2 linked regions of the Homo sapiens genome follow. The protein of the gene in region 2 purifies or fractionates together with the protein of the main gene of each other region. This does not show direct contact. Each region holds a gene or a part of one and is shown on either strand. Other genes may lie near its edges.

The links.
Region 1: the proteins of SLC44A2 (region 2) and UBAC2 purify together in Homo sapiens (affinity purification with mass spectrometry; one large-scale study listed by BioGRID and IntAct). This does not show direct contact.

What each region holds. Positions count from the first base shown.
Region 1 is NC_000013.11:99,238,854-99,242,353, forward strand, and holds part of UBAC2 (ubiquitin-associated domain-containing protein 2 isoform 1 precursor), read left to right. Parts: intron 1-3,500. UniProt on the Homo sapiens protein: Restricts trafficking of FAF2 from the endoplasmic reticulum to lipid droplets.
Region 2 is NC_000019.10:10,632,053-10,635,552, forward strand, and holds part of SLC44A2 (choline transporter-like protein 2), read left to right. Parts: coding exon 1-104; intron 105-2,703; coding exon 2,704-2,835; intron 2,836-2,921; coding exon 2,922-3,021; intron 3,022-3,110; coding exon 3,111-3,203; intron 3,204-3,378; coding exon 3,379-3,463; intron 3,464-3,500.

The sequences.
Region 1 (3,500 bases), on a different chromosome or scaffold from region 2:
ATGCCCAGTAGGCATACTTAGCTTTGCCAAAACCTTGTCTCAATTTGAATATTTGATTAGAGGAGCTAGGCTCTGTCAGCTGTATCAGATTATGAATTTTTGATAACTTTTACAGTGGTGGTTAAACGAAGTAAGAAATTTCTCTTGAGTTTCTGCTGTGGGAAAGAGCAGAAGTGCTTTTCAAGGTTTCTGGACTGATCTTGTTGAAAATGCTAGTACTGGGTTCTTGTCTATGAATTGGAGTGTTCATGCAAATTCTGGTATATGACTGCTACCCTTTCTTTGCTAAGCACTTGGTTAGCCCATTTTAAGCATAATAATCCATTTCTTGAACACTGACACCTTTTCTTCATAGTGATATAATTAATACCATTGCTCAGATTGGCTTCACCAACTTACTGTGCAGGTCTTTTAGTTATTTATCCGTATTACTGATTTGTCAGAAGATAGTGTAGCTTCTGTATTATTTCAGTTGCTATAATGCAGTCCTTCTCAACCCCGGACACACATTAGAATCACCTGAAAAAACTTCAAAGATCTGTCTCCATATCTATACTTACGTGAAGGTATAATTTATACCTAGATTTATATAAACACAGTATCTCGCCCCAGAACAACTGAGTCACAGAGTCTGGTGGTGGCGCCTGGGCATTGCTGTACATTTAAAAACAACCCCTAGGGGATTCTAGTGTATGGCTGGCTTTGAGGACCACTAATGTAAGGGCCCCCGGGCCTTGGGTTGATACCTTCCTAATTTCTGGAGTTAATTTGGTTCGTTTGGCTAAGCCCACTCTGTGGGCATCTGTGCTTTAAAGGTGGTGACCTGCTTGGATGGAAGAAGACCACTCTTCTGTCCAGGAATGGGAATAGCCACATCCAGATTAACACTTAAAACACCTAAGAGGCTCTCAGTGTGTATTCATGAGAGATATGGGAGTTGCAGTTCTGCCTTGGGAAATCTAAACACACGCATACACATAAGAACGTGATCTGTAGGTCACAGGTGTACATGACATCCTTGGGGGGTGATCAAGGAAATAGGGACCAGTATTGGGGGCCTACCTCTGGAGAGTCTTAGGGGTGTGAGCCTTCAGTTTGGTCCAAAAAGAAGGGATGACTGTTAATTAGCAATGAAGAGAGGGAAGGGCATTTTACTTCAGGAAGTAACATGAATTTCAGACCCTTAGGAGTGTGGTACAGGAAGCGTGCTTTGAGGCAAACCCAGGCTTAGATTGGAGAAGTCCAGGAGGGCTCAGTTGATGAAGGGCTTTATTTTGTAAGTTCTGAACCTCCAGATTTTGGCAGTGAATGCAGAGGTACAGTCAGTTTTCTTTAGGTTGAGTTGCAGAAGCAGTGCTTTGCTGAGTGCAAGCCGGTAGCCAGTTACCAGTCTTTAGGGGACATTCACCTGTATAATAATATGCAGTGGTTTATTCTTATACCAGCTCTCATAGTTTTGTGTCCTTGAGTATGATTGCAACACATAAATTATTTAAAACTGTAGCTAGCAGCTTTATTTTCATTAACTGAAAAAATGGGGTTCTAGAAATGCAGTTTGTTATATCTTAGTAATTACAAACTCTCCATTTCCTTAATCCTCAGATTTTCTTAGTGGCTCTCAGAGCTTATCCCTGAGTAGAGTATTTTCATTGTAATATTAAATGTGGGGATAGAGGACTTGGAGCTGCCTCTTATGGTTTTTGAATCTGGTGTTCTGAGGAGATGACAGTCATCATCATCGGACATTGGTAAAGTCCTTGGCAGTTTCCTATGTGCTCTCGTGTACTGCCTCATTGATCATATTGATGGAGGTATATGCTGCCTAAAGTTTCAGTGTGACTCCGGTACTGTTTCTCCTTGAGCCCAGCTATGGCCTCAACACAGCCTTAGAGGCAGCCATCCCAGTTCAGCTGGGCTGGCAGGTGAGGTGAACTCTGGTGGCCAGTACAGTCATGACAAAGACTCTGCCTGGTGTCTTGCTTGGAGTAGAGACATATGTGACAGGTTTTGACAGTTGATATGCTCAGACTTCTCATTTGTATTCTTATTTCTGTTGGCAAGAGCACAGGTTGTATGACTTTACAAACTTTAGTTTCTCTGTGCCTCTTTTTCCTTAAGACAGTTGGCTGGGTGTGGTGGCTCACACCTGTCATTTCAGCACCTTGGGAGGCCAACGTTTGTGGATGGATTGCTTGAGCCCAGGAGTTCAAGACCAGCCTGGGCAACATGGCAAAACACCATCTCTACAAAAAATACAAAAATTAGACGGGTGTGGTGGTGCACACCTGTAGTCCCAGCTACTCAGGAGGCTGAGCTGCGAGTATTGATTCAGTCTCAGAGGGTTGAGCCTGCAGTGAGATGTGATCACATCACTGCACTACAGCCTGGGCAACAGAGTGAGACCCTGTCTCAAAAAAAAAAAAAAAAAAAGAAAAGAGTTACTATTACCAATGTTCGCAGCAGCATTATTCACAATAGCAAAAAGGCAGAAACCCAAATGTCTATTAACAGATACATGGATAAACAAAATGTGGTGTATACATACCATAGAATATTATTCAACTATAAATGAGAATGAGATTGATACATGCTTTACCATGAACCTTGAAAATATTATGCAAAGTGAAATGAGCAAATGCAAAAGGACAAATAAATGATCTTACTTACATGAGGTATCTAATATAAGCAAATTCATAGAGACATTAAGTAGAATAGTGTTTCCTGGGGCTAAGGGGAGAGGGAACAGGAAGTTAGCATGGCATTTCTGTCTAGGATGATGAAGAGTTCTGGAAATAGATAGTGGTGATGGGTGTACAATATTGTGAATTTGCTTAATACCACTGAATTGTATACTCAATAGTTAAAATTTTAACTTTTTTTTTTTTTCAACTTTTTTTTTTTTTATTGATCATTCTTGGGTGTTTCTCGCACAGGGGGATTTGGCAGGGTCATAGGACAATAGTGGAGGGAAGGTCAGCAGATAAACAAGTGAACAAAGGTCTCTGGTTTTCCTAGGCAGAGGACCCTGCGGCCTTCCGCAGTGTTTGTGTCCCTGGGTACTTGAGATTAGGGAGTGGTGATGACTCTTAAGGAGCATGCTGCCTTCAAGCATCTGTTTAACAAAGCACATCTTGCACCGCCCTTAATCCATTTAACCCTGAGTGGACACAGCACATGTTTCAGAGAGCACAGGGTTGGGGGTAAGGTCACAGATCAACAGGATCCCAAGGCAGAAGAATTTTTCTTAGTACAGAACAAAATGAAAAGTCTCCCATGTCTACTTCTTTCTACACAGAGACGGCAACCATCCGATTTCTCAATCTTTTCCCCACCTTTCCCCCCCTTCTATTCCACAAAACCGCCATTGTCATCATGGCCCGTTCTCAATGAGCTGCTGGGCACACCTCCCAGACGGGGTGGTGGCCGGGCAGAGGTGCCCCTCACCTCCCGGACGGGGCGGCTGGCCGGGCGGGGGGCTGACCCCCCCACCTCCCTCCCGG
Region 2 (3,500 bases):
CATTGCCATGGCGATGAGCCTCCTGTTCATCATCCTGCTTCGCTTCCTGGCTGGTATTATGGTCTGGGTGATGATCATCATGGTGATTCTGGTGCTGGGCTACGGTGCGTCACCCCCTCCCTGTGGCTTCTCTTTCCTGAATCCGCACACTGCCCTGCCCTTTCCCGTGGAAATGGCCCATCAGGAAAACAAAAAAAAGTCAGGCCGGGCGTGGTGGCTCACGCCTGTAATCCCAGCACTTTGGGAGGCCGAGGCAGGCAGATCACCCGAGGTCAGGAGTTCAAGACCAGCCTGACCAACATGGAGAAACCCCGTCTCTACTAAAAATACAAAATCAGCCGGGCATGGAGGTGCATGCCTGTAATCCCAGCTACTCAGGAGGCTGAGGCAGGAGAATCGCTTGAACCTGGGAGGCGGAGGTTGTGGTGAGCCGAAATCACGCCATTGCACTCCAGCCTGGGCAACAAGAGCGAAACTCCATCTCAAAAAAAAAAAAAAAAGAAAAAATGTCTCAGCACCGTAGTTAAGGATGCATACTCTGGTATCAGAATAGCAGAGGTTCAAATCCTGGCTTTGCCAATTCTTTGGGCAAGTGCCTCAACCTAACTGTGCTTCAATTTCTTTCTTTTTTTTTTTTGAGACGGAGTTCTGTTCTTGTCACCCAGGCTGGAGTGCCATGGCGCGATCTTGGCTCACTGCAACCTCCGCCTCCTGGGTCCAAGCTATTCTCCTGCCTCAGCCTCCCAAGTAGCTGGGATTACAGGCATGCACCTCCATGCCCGGCTGATTTCGTATTTTTAGTAGAGATGGGGTTTCTCCATGTTGGTCAGGCTGGTCTCGACCTCCTGGCCTCAGGAGATCTGCCCGCTTCAGCCTCCCAAAGTGCTAGGATTACAGGCAGGAGCCACCGCGCCCGGACTGCTTCAATTTATTTCTCTATAAAATGAGGGTAATTCATATTTCTAGTTGGCAAACTAAATGACAAGGAGGTAATGAGCAGATAAAATATGGGTAGGGGCCTGTTTAGTTCAGGCCTGTGGAATCCAGAGGCACAATATCGTGCTCAACAAAACAGTGCTTCATATTTTGGATTTTTGTTGTTTTTGAGTTGTTGTTTTGTTGTTGTTGTTGAGACGGAGTCTTGCTTTGTCACCCAGGCTGGCGTGCAGTGGTGCAGTCTCGGCTCACTGCAATCTCTGCCTCCCGGGTTCAAGCAATTTTCCTACCTCGCCTCCCGAGTATCTGGGATTACAGGCGCACACCACCATGCCCGGCTAATTTTTTTTGTATTTTTAGTAGAGATGGGGTTTTACCATATTGGCCAGGCTGGTCTCGACTTCCTCGTGATCTGCCTGCCTCGACCTCCCAAAGTGCTGGGATTACAGACGTGAGCCACCGCGCCCAGCCTTGATTTGTTTTTTGAGACAGAGTCTCACTCTGTCACCCAGGCTGGAGTTCAGTGGCACAATCACAGCTCACTGCAGCCTTGACCTCCTGGGCTCAAGTGATCCTCCCGTCTTGGCCTCCCAAGTAGCTGAAACCACAGGCAAGCACCATCATGCCTGGCTAAATTTTTAATATTTTTGTAGAGACAGGTTCTCCCTATGTGGCCCAGGCTAGTCTTGAACTCCTGAGCTTGAGCAGTCCTCCCGCCTTGGCCTCCCTAAGTGTTGGGATTACAGGCGCAAGCCACTGTGCCTGGCCCATATTTTGATTATTCCTTGAACTTTCCTGGAAGAAAAATGCTTGGCAATCCAATTTGAGGACACTCATAGTAAAATATTCATATTAATAGTGGTTTCTAGCTGGGTGCGGTGGCGCACGCCTGTAATCCCAGCAATTTGGGAGACAGAGGTGGGCGGATCACCTGAGGTTGGGAGTTCGAGACCAGCCTGACCAACATGTAGAAACCCCATCTCTATTTTTTTTTTTTTTTGAGACAGAGTCTCTCACTGTCGCCCAGGCTGGAGTGCAGTGGCGCGATCTCAGCTCACTGCAACCTCCGCCTCCCGGGTTCAAGCAATTCTCCTACCTCAGTCTCCTGAGTAGCTGAGATTACTGGCGCCCACCACCACGCCCAGCTAATTTTTTTTTTTTTTTTTTTTTTTTGTATTTTTAGTAGACACGGGGTTTCACCATGTTGGTCAGGCTGGTCTCGAACTCCTGACCTCGTGATCCACCCGTCTTGGCCTCCCAAAGTGCTGGGATTACAGGCGTGAGCCACCGCGCCCGGCCAACCCCATCTCTATTAAAAATACAAAATTAGCCGGGCATGGTGGCGCATGCCTGTAATCCCAGCTGCTCGGGAAGCTGAGGCAGGAGAATCGCTTGAACCCGTGAAGTGGAGGTTGCGGTGAGCCGAGATTGTGCCATTGAACTCCAGCCTGGGCAACAAGAGTGAAACTCCGTCTCAAAAAAAAAAAAAAAGAGAGAGAACTTAGACCATGGCAGCATATGATTATGATTCCAAGTAGGGGGAAAGGGTTCTGGAAGTTCTCTTCTGAAGGTGACACTTGAGCAGAGACCTAAGGATGTGTGGGATCCAGCCATGGGGAGAGAATGCACCGGGCGGTGGGAACTGCAAGTGTAAAGTCCCTGAGGCAGAAGCCTCGATGTTTGCTTCTGTTAAATGGGGGCAGTTGTAGCTGCTTTGCAAAGTTGCAGGAGGCACTGCTGGACTGAGCTTGTGGTTCCCCCATGCAGGAATATTTCACTGCTACATGGAGTACTCCCGACTGCGTGGTGAGGCCGGCTCTGATGTCTCTTTGGTGGACCTCGGCTTTCAGACGGATTTCCGGGTGTACCTGCACTTACGGCAGACCTGGTTGGCCTTTAGTGAGTCACAGTCTCCCATTCCTGCCCCCACATGAGGCCTTGGAGGGAGTGGGGAGCCCAGCCGGCTCAGCCTTTGCCCTTTGCAGTGATCATTCTGAGTATCCTTGAAGTCATTATCATCTTGCTGCTCATCTTTCTCCGGAAGAGAATTCTCATCGCGATTGCACTCATCAAAGAAGCCAGCAGGTGGGGGGCCAGGGTGCCAGGGGCCAGGATGGAGCTGTCCCTAGAGTTGTGTCTTTTGCCCTGACGCCTGTGTCTCTGCTCTTCCCTAGGGCTGTGGGATACGTCATGTGCTCCTTGCTCTACCCACTGGTCACCTTCTTCTTGCTGTGCCTCTGCATCGCCTACTGGGCCAGCACTGCTGTGTATCTGCCCCCAGACACTGATCTCTGACCCCAGGGATGGCTAAAGACCAACTTTGCCTAGAAGTGACCTGCAGCTTAGGGATAGGGCTGGAAACTGGTGGGAGAATGGATTCTTTCCCACAAAAGTCCCTGGGGTCCTCAGTCCTAGACCTCTGCTTCCTTAACGAACCTCCAGCTTCCTGTCCACTTCCAACGAAGCGGTCTATAAGATCTTTGATGACAGCCCCTGCCCATTTACTGCGAAAACCTGCAACCCAGAGGTGGGCGTCCCCGGGGTGGGGAGGGCAGGTATTGCCC